Linked DNA regions of Homo sapiens. The gene in region 2 interacts genetically with the main gene of each other region. Each region holds a gene or a part of one and is shown on either strand. Other genes may lie near its edges.

What was found.
Region 1: of CASP8 (region 2) and BCL2L1, changing one suppresses a phenotype caused by changing the other (phenotypic suppression), as found in Homo sapiens cells (one study listed by BioGRID).
Region 3: of CASP8 (region 2) and BCL2, changing one suppresses a phenotype caused by changing the other (phenotypic suppression), as found in Homo sapiens cells (one study listed by BioGRID).

The regions. Positions count from the first base shown.
Region 1 is NC_000020.11:31,712,869-31,719,868, reverse strand, and holds part of BCL2L1 (bcl-2-like protein 1), read left to right. Parts: intron 1-3,024; exon of another isoform or gene 3,025-3,248; intron 3,249-7,000. UniProt on the Homo sapiens protein: Potent inhibitor of cell death. Inhibits activation of caspases. Appears to regulate cell death by blocking the voltage-dependent anion channel (VDAC) by binding to it and preventing the release of the caspase activator, CYC1, from the mitochondrial membrane.
Region 2 is NC_000002.12:201,255,881-201,263,599, reverse strand, and holds the start of CASP8 (caspase-8 isoform 2 precursor), read right to left. Parts: upstream 3,065-7,719; 5' UTR 2,987-3,064; intron 1-2,986. UniProt on the Homo sapiens protein: Thiol protease that plays a key role in programmed cell death by acting as a molecular switch for apoptosis, necroptosis and pyroptosis, and is required to prevent tissue damage during embryonic development and adulthood.
Region 3 is NC_000018.10:63,309,770-63,316,769, reverse strand, and holds part of BCL2 (apoptosis regulator Bcl-2), read left to right. Parts: intron 1-7,000. UniProt on the Homo sapiens protein: Suppresses apoptosis in a variety of cell systems including factor-dependent lymphohematopoietic and neural cells. Regulates cell death by controlling the mitochondrial membrane permeability. Appears to function in a feedback loop system with caspases.

The DNA.
Region 1 (7,000 bases), on a different chromosome or scaffold from region 2:
TTGCCTGACTATTGTCTTTGGCCAGTGGTCCTAATACCAGGTGGGTTGTTGCCAGCTATAAACAAAAGGCAGTCTGGGAGAGGTGCCTGGTCTGCTAGCCAGCCTCTGCAGAAGGCTACCCCTACCAGAGAATTGCCAGCTGCCCAGTGGTGCATATGAAAGAGGTCTTAGACACAGCAACTCTGGGTAAGTTTATTAGATCTCCATGGGGTTGAAATTCCATCTTCCATCTCTTTGCTTAAGAATCATCAGAGCCTGTTGGACAACATACCACATGTCACTTCCTCTTGGTGAACAGAGGGGATGTGTGTGGAAGAGCCAGTTATATCAGAACCATTTCTGAGCACACATTCTCTCCCTAAGGCCAGGGAGTAAAGAACATTTGACTCAGGATCCTTTGAGCCTGGGTAGAAGGTACCCGCCCCCTTCCTCTCAGGTATTATCCTGTTCCAAGCTGCACCGACTGGCTACTGTGGTGGCATCGGGTAATTATCCTGGAGACTGCGGCTGGGAGATCCTTAAGGGTAGGAGTTATGGGCTATTCTACTCAGGGCTATGTTCTAAATTTAGCATCCCTACAGGAAAGGGGAAGGAAATTAGTCTTTATTGAGTACCTGTTAAGTACTAGGCACTGTGTTAGGTCCTCTACTTATGCAACCAGTGTTTCTTGAGCATCTACTGTGAAGCTAGCAGTGTACTAGGTGCTGGCCATAAGCCACGCATGGTACCTTCCTTCATGGAAACGGCATGCTGTTTCATATATTCTACAGTAACCTTCCAAGGAAGGTGAGTTTATTCCCAGTTTACACATGAAGGTCTTTGTGCCTAAGTGACTGACCCCAGGTGTCCCTCAGCCAGTTAAGTGTCTGAATGAGAATTTACACCAAGGTTGGCATAATTCTAAAGCCAACACTTTTCATCCTATCAAGTTGTCCAGGGAGTAATAAAGTGACCTAGACATGCTGGCCCAGAAAGCCAGAGATGCTGTTGGGCCAAGCAAACCATGCCTGTGAAGGTGCTCACTCTGGACTGATAACTGGCTTTGTTCAGGTAGCTATGGGAAGGATAGTTGGCAGTAGCAGGTTCCCAGAGGCGTGTTGGTAGCCTCAGATTCTGGCACTGGTAAAACTCAGACATGGCAGGTTTCAAGTGGGCATCAGGGTTTTGCCCAGAGTGAGCTGCTTATTAATTTTTTCTTTTTTTTTTTTTTTTTGAGACGGAGTCTCGCTCTTGTTGCCTAGGCTGGAGTGCAGTGGCGCGATCTCAGCTCACTGCAGCCTCTGCCTCCCGGGTTCAAGTGATTCTCCTGCCTCAGCCTCCCAAGTAGCTGGGATTACAGGCATGCGCCACCACACCTGGCTAATTTTGTATTTTTAGTAGAGATGGGGTTTCTCCATGTTGGTCAAGCTGGTTTCAAACTCCCAACCTCAGGTGATCCGCCTGCCTCAGCCTCCCAAAATGCTGGGATTACAGGCATGAACCACCGTGCCTGGCCCCGGCCAATTTTTTCATTGTTAAAACCCTCTCAGGCCCTGCCAATAGATGACAGTGGTGTGCGTGTGGGGAGAAGGTGGCCTGCCCCAGGTATCTCTACTTAGTGGTGGAGTGATGCTTCAAGGACTGAAAGTGTAGACCCTTAGCCAGATTACTGCCTGCCTGGAGTCACCTGATGAAATGCTGAACCTGTTCGGCTGTCTTGTCCATCTGTCTCTCCCGCCTGTAAAATGGAATAATGATAGCCAGCTGCCATAGCTTGACTCGAGTAAAGGATCTAGCACAAAAGCCCTTCTCCTGCCATAATTGTAGGGTGGAAACCCTTTAATGAATGGGCAGCTTCCCTCAGAGAACTGACTCTTCCCCCTAGAGTTTCTCCTTGAGAAACAAAGTCCCTGTGATACTTTCCTGGAATGTTGTATACATGACCTTCCCCGAAGGGACACAAGTGTTTCTGGTGCTTTCCAATGGGAATGTGGGAAGGGACCCAGGTGGGCCTTGCCACTTTGGGATTGCTGTCCCTGAAGAAATCCCTTAGCCTGATAGAAACGTAATTGTTGGGAGCAATGAACTGTGTTGGGGGAGAAAACATAACTTGGCCTTTCTTAAGCTGTATGGCTCAGTGGTCTGAGTTTCTGTAGATCTCTTATTGCCTAATGTGGCTTCTTCAGATGGATGTATGCTTAGTTGAAGCACCTCAGCTCCCTTTGCAGATAGTGGCAGTTCTGTGGTTTTCTTAGGGAAACCCCATTAGAAACCCCAAATGTGGAAATTTTTAGTAATCTCATTCGGGTCCCAAAATTAAGTAGAAGTGTCTCAGGGGCTCCCCCTTGAAACACCTACTTCTTCTGAGTGTACATTTGAGGTTGCTCTTAAAATTCTGTTACCATCACAGGGTTTTCCAGACTTCCTAGGAATAATTTCCCCAGTAGCCCCACAGAGCCCTTTAGCTTCTGTCGAAAATTACCCGGGTATTTTTTCAGGGGGCTCCAATGGAACCTGGAGGGTTTTCTTGACTTTTGTATGGGTGTCCCCAGATTTGTTTGGGCTGCATGAAACAGCAGTTGTTATCTCTGTCCCTTCCCCCAGCAGATATCTGTCCTGAGGCCAGTGGGCTTGAGCGTCCTCCTCTGTGTCCAGTCTCCCTGGTTTTGCCAGTGCCCTCAGCCTTCCATCATGGGGCTTTCTTGAAGCAACTGTGGTTTTGCCTGAGTTTAATGTGGATAGACATAGGGGTAATTCCCAGTGTACTGCTTTTCTACGGAAGTATAATCTCCTACTGCCTTAATTAAGCAGAGGCCCTGTCCCCACCCAACCTCCAACCTAATTCCACAGAGTCCTCCCTAAGGACTCCCTCTTTTTTCTTTGAAGGAGTCACTCTACTCCTGGATCCTCTTCTCTTCTGCCCCTCTATCCGACAGTCTGTCTTCCTTGTTCCCAGTTGGCAGACCTGAGTCAGGCAATCCCACTGGGTCTTTTTGTTTAGCCTGGGGAAGAGAAGACCCAGGAGAATATCACCAGCTTCAGATATCTGAAGGAAGAGGGACTGAGTCTTTTTTTATTGGTGTGGTACCTGGCAAAACTTGGATAAATGAAAAGAAGTTAACAGTTGGTAGAGCTTAAATTATGTGCAGAGAAGACATTTCTAACAGATTTACTCTGTCCTAGATTTAGGAGCTCCTCAGGGTGGAGGCCACATCTTGTCCATGCTTGTTTCCTCAGCACTGAGCAGAGGCCTTGGGCATAGCAGATACCTAATTGAAGAGAAACCCACTAAATTTCTGAAGAAACAGACCCTTGTCAAGCCAGAATAACAATAATGGGAGTGGCTATTTACCTAATAATTCATTCGTTGAGTCAAACAATGTTTATTGAGCTCCTACTGTGTACCATACTGGGAGTATGGCAGTAAACAAAAGTAAGCAAAACTAAGTTTCTGTCCTCATGGAGCTCACATTCCAATGAGGAGTGACAGGCAATAAATATATAATTACATGTTTATATCAGATGATTGTACATGCTATGAAGAAAATAAAGCAGGTTGGGGCATAGGGCATGTCTAGCAAGGGAGGGTGGGGCTGCAGTTTTAAAAGAGTGATCAAAGAAGGTGTAAGGGAGAAAAAAATGGCTTTCCTCTACCCTTCTAGGTCCTTTGGCTGGGCTGAGAATTAAATTGACATAGACAGATTAACTGGAGGAAAAATAATTAATTACATAGTTGTACACAGGAATCCTACAAAATATGAGGCTCAAAGAAGGGTCAGATAATTGAAGCTTATATAGCATCCTGAGCTACAGAAAAGAATATGGGGCTTGGGACTTCTGTTAGGGGCTTGAGTGGCAGCAACCCAAGTTATGGCAGGGTGAGGGAAAGAATTGGTGGTGGCGTGTGTCTGTGGTCCCAGATACTGTTGAGGGGGTGTACTGAGGTGGGAGGATCACTTGAGCCTGGGAGGTGGAGGTTGCAGTGAGCCGAGATCAAGCCACTGCGCTCCAACCTGGGTGACAGAGCAAGACCCTGTCTCAAAAAATAAAAATAAAAAGTCTCTCTGGTAATAAAATTTGTCTGGAGCAGCCCTCTTCCTAATACAGATACCTTTACTAGTGTAGATTTCCTTTTTAGATGTGAATTTCTTTTACAAAAGGACAGCTTTTCAGAGCTACTCTTATGTCTGCAGTTTCTCAGAATAACCAGTTCAAAATATGCCAAAGAAGTATATTTTTGGGGTGGCATATTGTTTTCCTACAGTCATATTTTGGGATGGTATGTCCTGAGTCCCAACAAAAGTATTACCTAAATTTATTTGAGCCAAGCGCTAAATGAGGTAAGGAGGTGGATGATGTAGGTACCCTACAGCAAAGGGTGTTTAAAGCAGAGGGAATGGACTCAGGAGGGAGCATGCTTGACATTTTCAAGGATGAGCAAGAAGGTCAATGTGGCTGGAGAAGAAACAGCAAAGGGGAAAAGGGTAGAAGGTGGGGAGGGAATGGTTGAGGAGGAGGATGGAGAAGTAGGTGGGGGCCAGATCGCATACAGCATTACAGACCATGATGAGGATTTGGCTTTGGTGGAATGGTCTGTATTCCTTTTTTTTTTTTTTTTGAGACAGAGTCTTTCTCTGTCTCCCAGACTGGAGTGCAGTGGCACGATCTCTGCTCACTGCAAGCTGCACCTCCTGGGTTCACGCCATTCTCCTGCCTCAGCCTCCCAAGTAGCTGGGACTGCAGGTGCCCGCCACCACACCCGGCTAATTTTTGGTATTTTTAGTAGACGGGGTTTCACCATGTTAGTCAGGATGGTCTCGATCTCCTGACCTCGTGATCCGCCCGCCTCAGCCTCCTAAAGTGCTGGAATTACAGGCGTGAGCCACCGTGCCAGGCCTGGTCTGTATTCTTAAGGGTGGCAACAGGGAGCCCAGTGAAGAGGCTGGTGCAATTGCCAGGTGAAAAAGAATAGTGGCTTGGACCTAGAGGTGGAGGTGTAGTGAGACGGGGACTGGAGAATAAGACCAGGCTTGCACATGGTATATTGATGGGTCCAGCCATCCTGGAAACCATATTTTTCAACTACTTGGAGGTCCTAGAATCAAAGTTAAGTAAGATAGATGTTCTTTGGGAATAGTTCTCTCCAAATGTGATATTCTGATGAATGGTCCTCTTCCACTCCAACAGTATTTCTGTCTGAGTAAATGAAATTTGTCTGAGTTCAGTTCCCAACTCATCCGTGTCTACCTATGCAAGCTCCTTTTACCTCTCTGAATCTTGGGACAAATAATAATACCTGCCTCACAGGGGGCGATGGTAAAGACACAGTGAGGTATACCTGAGATGCATAAAGACTGGAGCCATGTTGGTATCATTATTCTTATTATCTTTCCACAGAACGCATGTCAGAGACCCATTCACGGAATCTTGAGCATCCACTCTCCTTTTTCTAAATACCATAGTGACCCATCAGCACATCTCAGAGCAGGCCCTTGCAGCATTTCTGTTGTAGTAGGAGCTCCACAGTGTTTGTGTGCAATGGTGGTGTAAGCACTGGTCTTGGAGTTGGAATCCCAGTTCTACTCTCAGTCTCACCTTGGCCAAGTCACTTCACCCCCAGTCCCCAGTTTCCCTTTATGCAAGATGGAGGGTTTGAAGTAGGCAATAAAGGAATGCTGGTTCTCTCTATCCTTAGGCCTTGTGGCGGATTCCACCATTACAGCATATTTCACATTAGTTATATTTTAAAATGGCTCTCTCCTGTTGACAGATATGTCAGCACCTTAACTAAACCCAGTGTCAAGGCAGGCTAGTTTATCACTGAGCCCACAATAGTGCTACCCTATATTTATGTAACACCTTACAGCTTCCAAAGCACTTTCAGATCCACCTTGCCTTTTTGATCCTTATAACCACCCAGAGAGGTGAGCAGGAAGGATGACATCTCCGTTTCAAAGGAGAGAAATCAGGTGAGAAAGATGAATTGACTTGCCCAAGGTTACATCAGGAGGAAGAGGCAGTTTTTGGACTTTCAAATTGGAACTTGACTACTAGCTTGCTGTGTGACCTTGGGCAAGTCTTTTAACTTGTAAATGGCTATAGTAATGCCACCTTTTTCTGAAGATTGGGTGAATTAATTCATTCTTTTAAGGCTTTCATATCATCCTAGGGCTCTTCACTCACATCATCTGGCTTCTCTTTTTTTACATATTGATTTTTGAAATTGTGGTTTTGTATAAAGAAACTGCCTTTGGGACCGTCTGCTATTTGGTTTCATCCCTGATGAGACTCTCGGGCCAAGCTTGAGCCTTACAGTGAACTCTGAGCCACACAGCTTTTTGGGCAGCCTCCAGTGCTCCCCTCGGAACTGGAGGTTTTTCTCCAGCTCTTCAGGAAATGCCATTGCGATGACTTCCATGGACTGCTTCCTGTCCCAGCCCTGCCGGCAAGAGTGTGGAAACTGGAAAGCAATGTCCCTAGAGGTCCGCCCCCCAAAAACTACTTTTTTTGGACGTGTCCCTGCCTTTCCTCTTGTCCATTACTTTCTTTGCTCCCTACCCTTTCCTCCTTCACCTGGCTTCTGCCTCCAGCTGTGATCATCCCTTCAAGATTTAGAAAATGCCTTTCTACTTGGTTCTGCCAGGCCATTACCCCCTACCCTAGGCTAGGCTGTGAGGGAGGTCAGTTAGAATTCCTGGGTTCTCTCCTTGGCTCCATCACGCATTAGCAGTTTCAGTCCTGGACTTCCCCTGGAGATGCATTAAACCTGTTGCTTGCGGTGCCCTGTGTCATCCATTAACCCTGAGTTCCCCTAGGAGATTCCACCCCACCCCTGCATAGGATGGGATTCTTAAGAGATAACTTGAGGTTTGGCACATATAAATCCTGCCTCTTGGAAATTGATGATAAAGGGTGGAGTGAAACAGAGCCTGCCTTCCCCTCCCCCAGTCACCTTTGAGGAGGAAGCTAGAAGGTTGAAAACCTTGTTGGACAATCATCTGAGGAATGGGAGCTGGCCTGG
Region 2 (7,719 bases):
TACAGAAAAGATAAAAAGGAAAATTAAAATTATGTATAATTCCACCATCCAAATATAAATGCCCAGTAATATTTTACTCTTTCCTACCAAATATTTTATGCATACACATTTTTCCTTATATTTGAACACATCATATTTCTGTAGTATAAGTGGATTTTTCCACTGGTAAGTACATCTTGTATTGTAAGTACTTTCCTGTCTTTAGTTTTTCTTCTACAGCATGGGTTTTAATATCTGTAAGGCACTTAATCTTAGAGATGGGCTATAATTTACATAGCCAGTTCCTGATTACATTTAGGATGACTTTAAAACGCAAATCTTTAAGAATACCTCTAATTATTTTCTTAGAATAATTTCCTAAAAGTAGTATTATGGTGTCAAAATGAATAAACCTTTTTGAGGCTCTTGTTACACATTCAATAGCATTTTCTGACAGTATATAATAAAAATCAATACAATCCAAGGCTGAGATGACATGAATTTGGATATAATAAGATTGGCGCATAGCTCCGTCCTCCATAGCCATCTCATCTCACTCATTTCATTACCTTTTCAACAACGTGACAATGCTTTTTAAGTGGTTTCCCCATCAAATCATAACTGACATTTAGAAGGGAAAATGCTAACGTGGCTTCTTCTCTGGCCTAGGTGTTCCAGGATACACTGTCAGATGATAGTCAGCCTTTTCTGTTTTTTGTTTTTTGCTTAAGTTACACATCCCTCTAGTCATAGTACCTAGAAAACAGTCACTTGCAAAGGATTTATGACACCATTAACAACGGGCCATCCAGCACTGTAAGGGGAGAGACATCGTGTGGCAGTTCTTGTTTTATGGGACCTAGATTTTCTGCACTAGCTTATGGGCTAGAAACTTTGTTAAGCTAGTATTTTTTAAACAATGTACTTGTATTTTTGGTTCCTAAAAACAGTAAAAGTAACACTTGTTTCATAGAGAAAGTACAGAGAAGTATAAAAAGAAAATAAAAATTACTTAAAAACTTGCCATTTGGAAGTAATTCTTTGGTCACATTTTGTGGCCTTTTCCCAATTTTTTTTCCACATGTATATATAACATATGTAAATTTGAATATGTTGCCATGTAATACATATATTTTATATAATCTCTGCTAAATAGTAAATGTATATAAGTCTATTTGTATTACATAAGTATATTTATTATTTTATATATTTATGCCCCAAAGTATTTAAATATAAATATGTGTTTATAATAATCATATAAATAAATGATATATAAATGTTTGTAATCTATATATCCATATAAACATAAAAATATTTTTTAACCTCATTTCACTAAAAGCCTCTGAAGAAACTACTATTACTGTCCCCATTTTTCTGTTGTGAAAAATCACGGCTTGGAAATAAGCTAGTAAGAGAGAGAGCCACAGCCAGATTTAAGTGTCTCACTCAAGGGCTTCAGTGACAGATCACAAAGATTTAGACGTCATTCTACTTGCAGCTGGAAGGCAGTGAAAGAATCTCATGAAGAAAAACATAAAATCATAACTTTTTTAGAGAACAACATTTCAAAAAATTTTATAATAACAAAGCCACAAAAACAGAAGTTCTTAACAAATCCACTATAGGAGAGGGGGTTAGAGCCTCACAAAGGAAGTGCTAGAATCTAGGCCCCAGCATCTCATTCCAGAGTCCCATTCTACCACTGTATTACATGTCACAATTAAACTGTAAATACATTCCATCTCATCACAATCATTCCAGTAATATTCTAGCAGCATCCTAGCTCTTGCAGTGATAACTAAAAAGCAAAACATGCATTTGCCATCGGAAGCAGAAACCTGCATCTCATCCGAAGCTTGAGAGAACCTGAAAGCCACTCGCTCTCAGGCCCAAACCCCTAACCGGCAGGTAGTATTGCCACTCCCTCCAATCCAGGCTGGCTGCCTCAGACTGCGGGCTGCCCCGGAACCTGACAGACATCCATTCTGCACGCACATGATGTCCATAACAGGGCGCTGCAGCCACGGCATTCAAACAACCCAGCAAAGGTGTCCAAACCTCAGCAAAACATATAATCCCATCATTTTCAAACAGAATGAAACTTGCAACTTCACCTGTAAATTCTTAACCCCACAAGTGCAGGTCTCTGATTGTGTCTATCTAGTCTTCCCATTATATTGTTTTTTGAACTGTTCTGTATCTTTTTAATTTTTTTTTTTTTTTTTTTTTGAGACGGAGTTTCGCTCTTGTTGCCCAGGCTGGAGTGCAGTGGCACGATCTCGGCTCACCACAACTTCCACCTCCCAGGTTCAAGCGATTCTCCTGCCTCAGCCTCCCGAGTAGCTGGGATTACAGGCATGCGCCATCATGCCCGGCTAATTTTGTATTTTTAGTAGAGACGGGGTTTCTTCATGTTGGTCAAGCTGGTCTCAAACTCCCGACCTCAGGTGAACCACCGCCTCGACCTCCCAAAGTGCTGGGATGACAGGCGAGAGCCACCACGCCCAGTCTTTTTTAATTTCTTTAAAAAATAAATAATTGAATTAGTAGGACCACATGGGTGTGTTTGTGTGTATGTGTGTGTGCGTTTATGTTGGCAAGTGTGTATGTTGGTGGGTATGTGTGTTGGTGGGAGGATAGCTGTAGCAGCAAAGTCAGTAGAGATTTAAATTTTGGCTTCTATTATTTCACAAGTTTGACTGGGATCAGGATGAGGCCTTTATACAAGTAGTTAAACTTGCAGCATTTCAGAAGCTCCTAGGACTTCATCAGTCTAAGCTAGAATGGCCTTCAGATCTGGAAACTGCACGGCCCTCGGCAAGGCTCTCAGAGGGACTGCTACCTCTTACACTAACTTCATGGTTTCCCCATCCACACTCACATACGAGGATCACCTCCATGGCCCCAGGGCCACCCGATCTCACTCTCAGCAGCCTAGAAAACTCCAGAATCAAAGGCCTTCCTCCCAAAAGGCCCCTCTGACCTTAACAAAGAGGCAAATCCTTACCTTACTCTCACGATGGTAGCACCTTCGTCACAGGCCTATCCACTACCATCTGAGCATCTAAGACAAGAGCAAACGTCTAATGAAGGACGGAAGGGCACAGCCAGCCAGCTCTACTTCCTGTTTCGAAACTCCTGAGTCACAAACACTAGAGGGGAAAGAGCGCTTACCACTTGCCCCTGAGTGAGCAGAGTGCCTTCTAAAGCTTCTAAAGCTGCAGGAAAAAGGCCTGGTGGTCCAGGAGACCGCACGCAGGGCACCTGGCCACCTGAGCACTGGCCCCTGGCTGTGACTTTGGATGGGCCATTTTACCTTTGGGGCCTCATTTCCACATTCCAAAACAAGGACGTTGGACTGGATTGTAACTAAGAACACTTTCATTTCATATTTAGGATTTAAAGATTTTTCTGGGTTCATCATTAAGACTTTAATTTTTTCATTCAATGAATCTTGATGGAGCACCTCAGAGAGGTCTTGAGATTGGACACTGCAGAGCCCTCTCATCTTGGTTCTCAGGGTGGCTGTGAACTTTCAGAGCTAAAGCCCCTGGTTTAGCCAAGGAGCATCTCTGTGGCCCCAAGGTCACCAGATTCCACCCTCAGCAGCCTAAAATACTCTAAAATTAAAAAAAAAAAAAAACTCTAAAAAGAAAAAACTCTAAAATGAAAAACCTCTAAAAAGAAAAAACTCTGAAATAAAAAAATTCTAAAATGAAAAAAATCTAAAAAGAAAAAACTCTAAAATGCAAAAACTCTTTGGTAAGATGGTAAGTCCATCTTACCAAAGGTGATCCTTGTATATGAGTGTAGCTGAGGAAACCATGAAGTTAGCTGAAAGCTGGGTTTACCATCTTATCAAAGAAGCAAATCCTGGGGCCCTCACCATGTTGGGCTCTAGGGATATACCAGTAAACAAAATATTGCCTTCATACTGAGAGTTAGATGAAATGTTTTCTGATATTAAAAGTAGGAAAAGAAAATCAAACACCTCTCTTCTTTGAAACTGCCTTTTGTCTTTCCCCAAATAGAATATAAGCTTTCAGAGGGTAGGGACTCATAGCTGAGAAGACTGAACGAAGTATCTGAAAAGGACTCTTCACCAGAGAGGGCTAGGTCAAGATGGCCTCATAATATCAATGCCTGGATGGCCACCGTGGCTCATGCATGTAATCCTAGCACTTTGAGAGGCCAAGGTGGGAGGATCCCTTGAGCATAGGAGTTTGAGACCAGCCTGGGCAACAAAATGAGACACCATCTCTATGAAGAAAAATTTTTTAATTAGCCAGGTGTGGTAGCACGCGCCTGTGGTCCCAGCTAATCTGAAGGCTGAGATGGGAAAATTGCTTGATCCCAGGATGTTGAGGCTGCAGTGAGCCGTGATTGCACCACTGCACTGCAGCCTGGGTGACAGAGCAAGACTTTGTCTCAAAAAATAAATAAATAAAAAAGAAATAGAAACAGAATGAGCAAAATAAAATACCAATAGTATTAATATGCAATAATAATTGCTAACTCGTGTAGTAAGTGATGTATGCGTATTATCTCCTTCAAGCCTCACAGTCACCTCTGGAGGCATTATTAATCATTTAATGATGAGATAACAGAGGCACAGAGGAATTACTTGCCTGAGATCGCATAGTTAAAAAACAGTGTACACATACAAAAGAAAAATACATTTTGCAAAGATACAGATAAATTCACGAATCCACATCAAAACATTAGAGAACTGTCTTTGGGGAACAAGAGAGAGGGCAGGAGGGCAAGGGTGGGGGTGGAGAGATAAAAGGAAACCCTTCAGACACGGAAGAGGGGGAAGGGGCTGTGCACCTCAGGGCATCGTGATTCGACAGAATGACAGAATAAAGTACTTAACCGTCGGCCCCAGGGCCAAATGAAAAAGAAAAAAAAGTGGATTGATAAAGTCTTCTGGACTCTCCAAACGGGTCCACAGGAGGGAGACCGTGTATCTGCATTCGAGGCGGCAGGGAAGCTTGGAGGACAAAAAGGTAGCAGAGGAACTGGAGACTGCTCAGAGTGAAAAAGTAGCAAAGTCAGAGGCAACGGCTCAGAGAGAAACCACACAGGAGACCTGGGCCAGGCAGCACCCAGAGGTGTCCTCAGAAGGGCAGATCCAAGTTGCTTCCCCACCCCCACAGCCCTGTTTCTAGAGCAAGTCAAGAAACAAAAATATTGTGGTTTCCTGTTGAAGAGGCCACCTTGGCAACAGGCACTCACCCGCTCCACCCTTTCCTGGCACCATCGCAGTCTCCGAGTCCCCTAACCTGCCTAACTCCACGTGCTCAGCAGGGAAGGGGGTGGGAAAGGCTCCCAGGAAGAAGTTTCTTTTACTTTCAATAACCACCCTGGCTCTTCTGCCTCCCTCCATGGCCTCACTTCCTGTTGAGTTGACTAGCAAATTCAGCAGGGCTTGAAAAAAAACACAAAAGATAAAAGGAGGAGAACCTGTGAAAACACTTCCCTCCAGCAGAAAGGCAGAATCTGGTCTCCGAGAGAAAGAGAAAACTTCACCACAGAAGGAACTGCAGGGTAAACTTTACTCCTAAAGCAGAACAGAGATGACTCACTCGAACAAGAAATGTTTCCTGTTTAAAGGAACAGATGCCCAATTTCCAACCATTCAGAAGAGGGATGTGGCAGACAATTCATGGACGTGCAAACTAAAGCCCGAGCGCTGGACATGCTTTATTGGAAAGCATTTATACTGACTCCATTTAGTAATAATAACCCCTGTCGGTGGCAAGTAATATGCCATTCTTTCTTGCAAAGGGTCTGGGAATAGGAAGTTTCCCTTTGCCTTGATCAAACCTCAGCACTGAAGTCACAGACCAGCCCTCTCCTCCCTCCCGCCGGACTGGGTAAAGCCAGCCCTGTAGCTGAAATGTAGGTAGATTGTTCAGAAAAAAGGAGGAAGTGTTCTGGCTCAGCCCTACTTGGCTTAGCCCTGCTCGGCTCAGCCCTGCTCAGGCTGAGTTCCCATCCTTGGCCATGTTCTCCAGTTTAGTTGTAACCCGTGTCTTTGTAGCATTGATCCTGGAGTGTTGGTGCTACTGAGGTCTGTTCTCCAAAGCTCTGAGCCCTAGACCCTCCCCTGTTCTCTCATTTTTTTTTTTTTTTTGAGACGGAGTCTCGGTGCGTTGCCCAGGCAACAGTACAGTGGTGCGATCTTGACTCACTGCAACCTCCACCTCCTGAGTTCAGGTGATTCTCCTGCCTCAGCCTCCCGAGTAGCTGGGACTACAGGCACCCACCACCACCCCCGGCTAATTTTTGTATTTTTAATAGAGATGGGGATTCACCATGTTGGTCAGACTGGTCTTGAACTCCTGACCTCAAGAAATCCACCCGCCTTGGCCTCCCAAAGTGCTGGGATTACAGGCATGAGCCACGGTGCCCAGCCCCTCCCCTGTTCTCTGCCATCTGCCTCTCTTTCCCATTTGAATTTTTTGTTCGGGGGACGGAGTTTCGCTCTTGTTGCCCAGGCTGGAGTGCAATGGTGCCATCTCGGCTCACAGCAACCTCCGCCTCCCGGGTTCAAGCGATTCTCCTGCCTCAGCCTCCTGGGTAGCTGGGATTACAGGCATGCGCCACCATGCCCGGCTAATTTTGTATTTTTAGTAGAGACAGGGTTTCTCCATGTTGGTCAGGCTGGTCTCAAACTCACGACCTCAGGTGATCCACCCGCCTCGGCCTGGCAGAGTGCTGGGATTACAGGCATGAGGCAGCGCGCCCAGCCATGAATTTTTAAAAAGGGTTTTCTGCCCTTTTGCTTTCACATCTTGTACATTTTATAACCAGAACACCAGCAATAACACATTACCTATATGTTGCACCTTGACATGAACTATCTCTAATTCTGGCAGCAGAATTCTCTAATTCAGGGTATTGTTCTCCCATGTTATGGATGAGGAAACTAAGACTCAGACAGTTACATGGAGTCAAACTCAGTCCTGCTGAGCCAAAAACAGAGATTTTTCTATGACATACTAACTCCCTTTCTCCAACACTTCAAATTTGGAATGAATCATGTGGATGGAAGAGCAACAAATTTAAACTAATAGTGACTGGTGCATAAAGGGCAGAAGGTCCTTGGTTTCTCAGTCACCTAACAAAAAGGAGTTGGCCTAATAAAGGCACAAGCTAATACTTATCAAACCATTGGCGTATGCCAGACACAGCCACCTAAACTAGCTCATTTCCACTTCTGAACAGTTCTCAGAAGTGGATGCTACGATTGGTCCCATTTTATGGATGAGGACACTGAGGCTTAGAGAGGCTGAAAGACTTGGCCACGCTCAGTCAGTGAGTGACAGAATAAGGTCTGTTTGTCTCTAAAACCCTGAGTGGTTAGTCACCACCTAAACATTAATGCATAGCCATGAATCTCAATCTGACCCACCTCAGAATTAACTGTAACATTTCTAAAAATATGAGTCTTCCAGCTCCAGCTTTGGAACTCCTATCTGAGCAAAACTGTGGGAGATAAAACAGCTGGAGCACTTAGAATAGTGCCTGGGCCTTCCACATTTCTCAATAAATAGGCTGTGGGTGCAGTGGCTCACACCAGTAATCCCAGCACTTTGGAAGACCAAGGCAGGATGATCGCTTGAGCCCAAGAGATCGAGGCCAGCCTGGGCAACATAGGGAGACACTGTCTCTGCAGAAAATTTTAAAAAATTAGTCAGTTATGGTGGCATGCATCTGTTGTCTCAAGCTACT
Region 3 (7,000 bases), on a different chromosome or scaffold from region 2:
CCACATGTTTTTATTACATTTTACAAAGTGTGCTCATACTAGGAGGCCAAATAGAGAAAAGGCCAAGAAAAGTAGATGATTGATGTGAACATCTGATCTTATTTGACCAAAGTTGACAAAATATTGATGCCACTGTTTGGTGTTTAAAAGTAAGATTAACTAAAATGCCCCAATTTAAATTTCTAAAATTTAAATCCTCTTCTTGAATTGTTTGTTTGTTGAGATCTCACATTATCAGATCTTTAGTAATTCTGGAAGAATTTGCTAAAGGGTGAAAAGAATATTTTTGTTAAATATTTGGTTAAGTAGGTGGTTTGATTTTTAATCACTATAACTAAAGGGGTTGGGACTTCCAGATTCCCAAAGGATCCTTTTAAACCAAAGTAAAACTGATTTAATAGTTTTACTATTTCACATTTTTGTGAAAAATTCACACTTACAAATTTTCTTTCTACTTGAAATAAATCCAAGGTGGTAACTGGTATCTGTCTATCAAATAAGTTAATAAAAATGTGGGAAACAGAGACACATGTTTATGACAGAAATTAAGATACAACCTTGATATTTGTTGCTGAATTTCAGTGTGTTACCCTCTCATGTAACTGAAGTTTCTTTTTAAGTAAAGGCTCACTTTTTTCTTTTTGTGAAACAGAGTTTTCATAGTAGACCTATCTTTGTGGTCAACAGGTATCTGAGGTTGATAAATGTAGAGGCTACATTTTATGATGCCAAACCACAATGACATACCATAGAACATGATAAAAATTTTTTGACAAAACTGCTTCTAGTAAAAATAAATCATGTAGAAGCACAGATGGTTGATGGTAAAATATGTAATAGCTTTCAGAACAATGCATAGATGGTGACTATATAGGAAAACAAAGGAATTTAGAGAAAAAATATATATATATACCAGGAAATGCACTCATAGGACACTTTGGAATAAAAGTGGTAGTGTTTGAGAATGATGAATGATTTGCCTATCATTTCAAATGTGCATTATTAATCTAAAAGTCATTTTAGGCATTTGGCATACAGACAGATTTTCTTCACATTTACACCAATTGGGGTTACATCTCTAATAATATGTTGTATTTTATAGTGTAAGGTAGTCTTAATGGTAAAGCTTCAGAAGAGAGCTAGCATATTTTCTTGGCATGTGACAATAATCTGCACTGTCCCCAGGGCTCCGTGGATTAGCCCATCTCCTGAATACTACACTGAATACTCCAGGCTTTAGACTGCAAGTCATTTCTTTTTCTTTGCTGCTGCTCGTAGAAAATTGGAACCTTGTGAGGCTGAGGAAATCTGTTTGACTTTTGTGTTCCATAACATGGATAAATCAGGTCCTTGGAATGATCAGCCTCTGATAGATTGTCCCAGAAGACTACAAATTAAATAAAGACTAAAGAAGTAATTGGCTGTAGAGTGGAGTGTGGATTTATTCCTAGGTCTGAATAAGGCATTGTGTGGCATCCAGAGAGAGGCAGGACAGAGGAAGCAGTGAGAGAGAAGCAATTCTAGAAAATGTGGATACCTTGCTGCTCAGTGTGGCTTATAGACAGTAGCACATGCATCCCCCGGAGCTTTGTAGAGATGCTAAAGCTCAGCTCCCACCCCAGAGCTACTGAGTCAGAATATGTGGTTTGTGTGCACGTTAAAGTTAGCGATGCTGGCTACCATCCTTGGTTCCTGGTGGCATCTTTTAGGAAGAGTTGCTACCTGGGATGGATTCTGCATTGTCCCCTTCCAGTGGCCTTAAAGATCTATAGTGTTACTTGGAATACCGAGTATTTCCCAGGTGTCCACTATTGTGATCTGACTTTAGGAAGACATAAATTGGATGAAGGAGAGATAGCAAGCAGGTAGATCAACTATAAGCCCAGTCTTCTCATGAATATTTTTCGTAGTAGTTATATAGTTTATATTGGCATCACTGGTCCCATTAAAAAGTAAGATAGCTTTTCTTCAATTAAAGGCAAGAGAATTAGCTCTTTTAATAGCTCTGTTAGTTATTATTTTATCCCCTCATAACACAGTTTAAATTCTGTAAATGACTTTAGTGACCTTGCAGCTTCTTTAAGACAAAGGGACTCTTGCAGGCAAGGGATTGAGTTTTGGGCAGGTGATGGAGAGTGACCCTCTAAACTGGGAACTGTGACGACATTCAGCTTCATGTCTTAGGAGAGAGTGAGATAGGAGCCACTAGAAGAATGAGATGATTCAGACAAGAGATTGTAGGAGATTGGCTTTATTCTGTTGACAAGATGGTAATCCGACTTATTTTTTGGTTTTTTGGTGTTGGTGGTTTAGGAAGACAGGAACTTCTCCACACCCGGTAGAGTTCAGCTGCCTTTTCATTAGTCAGCAAGCAGTTTTTCCTTTCTCAAGGCAGTCCACATCCAGCAAAACATTTGATTAACTGGAAAGCAATACCATTCTCATGCCAGTGTACAAATTACATGAAAGAGCATCATTTTTCTAGTGTCTGAGGATTGGCTGCTTATGGCCAATTTTGGCAGCAAGACGATAGGATTAAAAATAGCTTGAAGATGATCTAGTCTTAAATAATATATTTCATGATGAACTTTCCTTGGGAAAGTGCATCTTTCTGCCTACAAGAATCACATGACCCCTTTCAATAATTTATGTAGTAGAGAAAAACACACTATTTCTCATAGAGTTTTCAGTCATGTGCTGTGGTGTGATTGTTTCTGGACATTCATAAAATTTTATAGTTAACTGAATTCTCTTTTCTGTTTTGTTGCTATTTAACGTCCATTGAAAACATGGCTTTCTTTTGCGCATTCTGTTACTTTCAGCTGTACTTTCTAATAAGAATGGATTGCCCTTTTTAGCAATCTTTGATTGAACTGGTACATTTCAGATTACTTAAATGTCATCAGGCCACACAGCATACCAGGTAACAGAAAGCCATAAATTAAAAATAAAAAAAAGGCAAGCAAAATTCTTGTTGTTTTTTCTTATCTCTGTTCCCAGTCCTATTGCGCTATTTGGAGGGATGATACGCCCACTCATGAGCGAGTGTGTGGGTGCTGCATGTTAACAGTGGTTCTTCCCACCCAACATACCTCCGCACCCTTTTCTAAGGTCACTCATTGTGTCTTAGCAGTAGTTTAGCAAAGCAGTATCTCAGCAGAAGTGCATTTGTGCTAGAAAACAACACTGTCTTTGTAGTGTACAAGTAGAACGTTTTCTTTTTCCCCCAGAGATATATTGTATTTGAGATTCAAAGGTTCTGTTCAACCTTTTTAAGGTAATCTAATATCACCTTATTCAGGTATAACAGTAACTTGTCAATCTGGTCATCCTTTCTGTCAACCACATGTAGGAGACCACTCAGTGAATTTACTCCACTGTGAATTTTCTCTTTCATCCCTCTTGGTTTGGCTTAATCAACCTTAATGTTTGATGTCTAAGCAGGATTAATGATGAAAATCATCCAAGGACTGACAGTTATTCCACAGATGTGATTGCCAGTCTTACATGAGTCCTGCCTTGGGTTAGGTTGGAGGCACGGCAAGGAGAGCTTTGCTTCTGCCCTGGATAAACTCACAGGCTAGTGTTGCAGGCATCTTAATAAACTCGTAGTTATCATACAGCCTGATAAGCATGATCCTAGACTCAGAGACTTAGAGGAAAAAAGCAAATAACTATAAGTTATTTTGCATGTACTTCAGCCTTGGTCTAAGAACGTTATTTCTGACCATATGGCTGTTCATGTGTGCATTAGGCCTAATTTAAACAGGGCCAAAATGTAGATACTTTAAAAAATACTGTGTAACGTAGACATATGCTTAAGAGAACTGAAAGGCAGGGGGAGTTCCCTTGTTAAATATTAACCCACTAAGCACTATTTATGCATACTAAGAAGACTTAATAAACACCAGTCTACAATTTCTAAAGCATTTCATTAATTCTTTTTAAGTAAAAGACAATCAAGGCTCCGATTAGACTGACTGGAACAGGGTAATTTGAAGAACTATCTTTCTTAAATAACTCTTGTATGCCAAAAAATACAAGTAGGTTTTGAACCAGAGCGGGGGCTCTTCCTTTGAGCAGGGGAAAAAAAAGCTTCTGTTTTGTTTTGGTTTGAGGTTATATTACTGTTCTATTTATCAAGACACTTCTACGATGCTAGTTACAGAAATTCACAGTCCATTGTAACACTGGCATTTGCCTTCGGACTTTTTTGGGCTTGTGGTCTGTTCGTTTAAATGGAGACTGTAAAACTTTCAAAATGCCAACAAAGCTGTTTTCACTTAAAAACATATTTTTATAGATTGTCACTTGTTGTTCTTATATATGCCCAATTCTGTATATGCTATAGCACTATTTCTCTGCCCTCCATTTGCCAGACAAAAGATACACCCATCTGTCCTTCAGTGTGAATAAGGATTGAATGATTATTCCTCTCTCTTCCAAGCCATGGGACTTTCTCATAGGTGCCACCACCCCTGTGACCATCCCCTACCTGCCTTATCATTCCACCGGTGAGGGACCTCTCAGGTGTAGCTCCTTGTTAACTTCCAATTAGTGATGGGTAGGATTTACCTGAAGAAAACCGTAATGCGCTTAGATACTAGCAAAAGGGAGCAGAAGTGGGGAGTCTAATCAAAGTGAGAGGATAACCCTCACCCCAAACTTGCTGCAGGCAGCTGGGCAGGTCAAAATTCTGTGACCAGACACTATCCTTTTCCTCTAGTGATTATAAACTTTAACCTGTGCAGAGAAAAGATAGTATCTGCTGGCAAAATTTGTACTTACTTTGATTCCTCTAGTGCAAGATTATAGTGGGGTTATACCTGAGACTTCAATAAATGTTTGACTAACTAAACTAAAATAGCTTAGGGTAAGGACTACTTCCCCAAACGCCCTTTTAAACATGTGAGAAAGGGAATCTCCCTGACATACTGGTATGGCCATTTGTAGCAATATACTGAGAGTGACTTGGGTGATTTTCTGGGGCGATCAACCACATTCCATGAGCAGGTTAACTGTGGAAGACACCTGCCCTTGAGCATCGCGTTTGGGCCACATGCGTCAATGGGGAAATTTGTGTTTCCATTCTGCTTCTTGTTTTGCCTTCACAACTTCAGGGATAGAAGCGTATTCCATTTTTAGTTAATAATCAGCTCTCTGGGGCTTCCATGTAATGAGTCAGAAACTGATGACTGACTCCACTCTGCTCATTATCATGTCTCCCAAAAACAACCCGAGAACCCACTGTGTCAAGTGAAGCTTTAATTTTTCAGGGGAGGTTTTCTCCATTGAGACCAATACATCTTTTCTTGTGACAGATCCAGTTACCATATTTCCTTATTTTTAACTGTCGAAAAGACAGTTAAGCTGCAACAGAGTATGGTGAGTTTACCAATTTTAATACTTGAAGCACCAAACAAAGGATCAGTGTTGCAGGCTGTCTCTTCTTGACTTTTTCCAGCTCTCCTTAGCAGATAACCAGGATGATATTTTTTCTGCTTTACAACATGATGAATGCTATATCTCTATATTAACTCTGAAATTGAATTGCAGCCAAATATTCCTCTCAGCTGCATTAGAATTTTCTAAAAGAACATGAGACACATAAACTTAGTCTTCTTAGTTCAATGCTATATCTCAGATATATTGATATCTGATTTACAATTAAAATAGGAATAAAATTAAGTACAAATTATATCATCAGCTTTAAATATTGATTTATCTTCTTGAAAAAAAAAAAGCGAGTCCATAAAGGATGGCAGCATTGGCATTTCTGGATGTAAAATTTCAGGGCTATCTCCTAGCCATATCCTTTATGGATTCCTGCCAGCATCTTTAAAAACACACACACTGAAGACACACAGAGAGGTTTTGAGGTATTTTATAACAAAATTATAAGAACAGGGAGACAAAGCCACTTACTAAACATTAAAGTGATAGTATAAGAAGAAAATGATTTGAAGAAGTCCTAATTGAGGGAAATGAGCAATTGTCCACAAAACTTAACCCTGGGTTCCCAGGAACCGGGGTAGTGATGGTCATGGAGAGGGGTTTTAGAATCTGGTTATTTAGGAAAACATGCACACTAACTTGTTTCATTGAAAAAAACATTTATTGAGGCCCTACACCATGCAAAGCTCTATGCTAGGTGTTTTAGTTAAGCGAAAAAATGTCTAAGATAACTTTTGCCTTCAAGGAACTTACCAATCAGTAGGAGACCAAGACAAGGATACAAATCACTGTAATCCTGGACAATGTGTAGTAGACAGAGAGGCCCAACCCAGCTACAGTGGTATCTGAAGAGTTTCATGCCGGAGATAATGTTGAGACAAGTTTTAGAGAACAGGCAGGCGATACGGGGAGAGGGTCTTTCAGGTAGTGGAAACTGGAGGCGTCAAAGCAGGCATGAATGCGGGAGGTGTGTTTGGGGAATTGTGGAGAGTCTGATTTGACTGGGGCATGGAGAACTCTCCTGAGATAAATCCATAGTTTTGAGAACTTACCACTGCATACTAAGTTGTGAAACTTGTATAGACAGCCCTCCCTATCTTTGGGTTCCACATCCATGGATTCAACCAACTTTGGATCAAAAATATATGGGGTAGGGCAGGCACAGTGGCTTAGGCCTGTAATCCCAGCACTGTGGGAGCTCAAGGTGGGTGGATCACTTGAAGTCAGGAGTTCAAGTCCAGCCTGGCCAACATGGTGAAACCCTTTCTCTACTAAAAATAGAAAAATTAGCCAGGTGTGGTGGTGGGCGCCTGTAATCCCAGCTACTCGGGAGGCTGAGGCAGGAGAATTGCTTGAACCCAGGAGGCGGAGGTTGCAGTGAGCCGAGATCGTGTCACTGCACTCCAGCCTAGGGGACAGAGCGAGACTCTGTCTCAAAAAATAAATAAATAAACAAACAAATAAATAAAATAAAGTATATAGGAGGATGTGCATATGCAAGTACTACTCATTTAATATCAGGGACTTGAGCATCTTCAGATTTTGG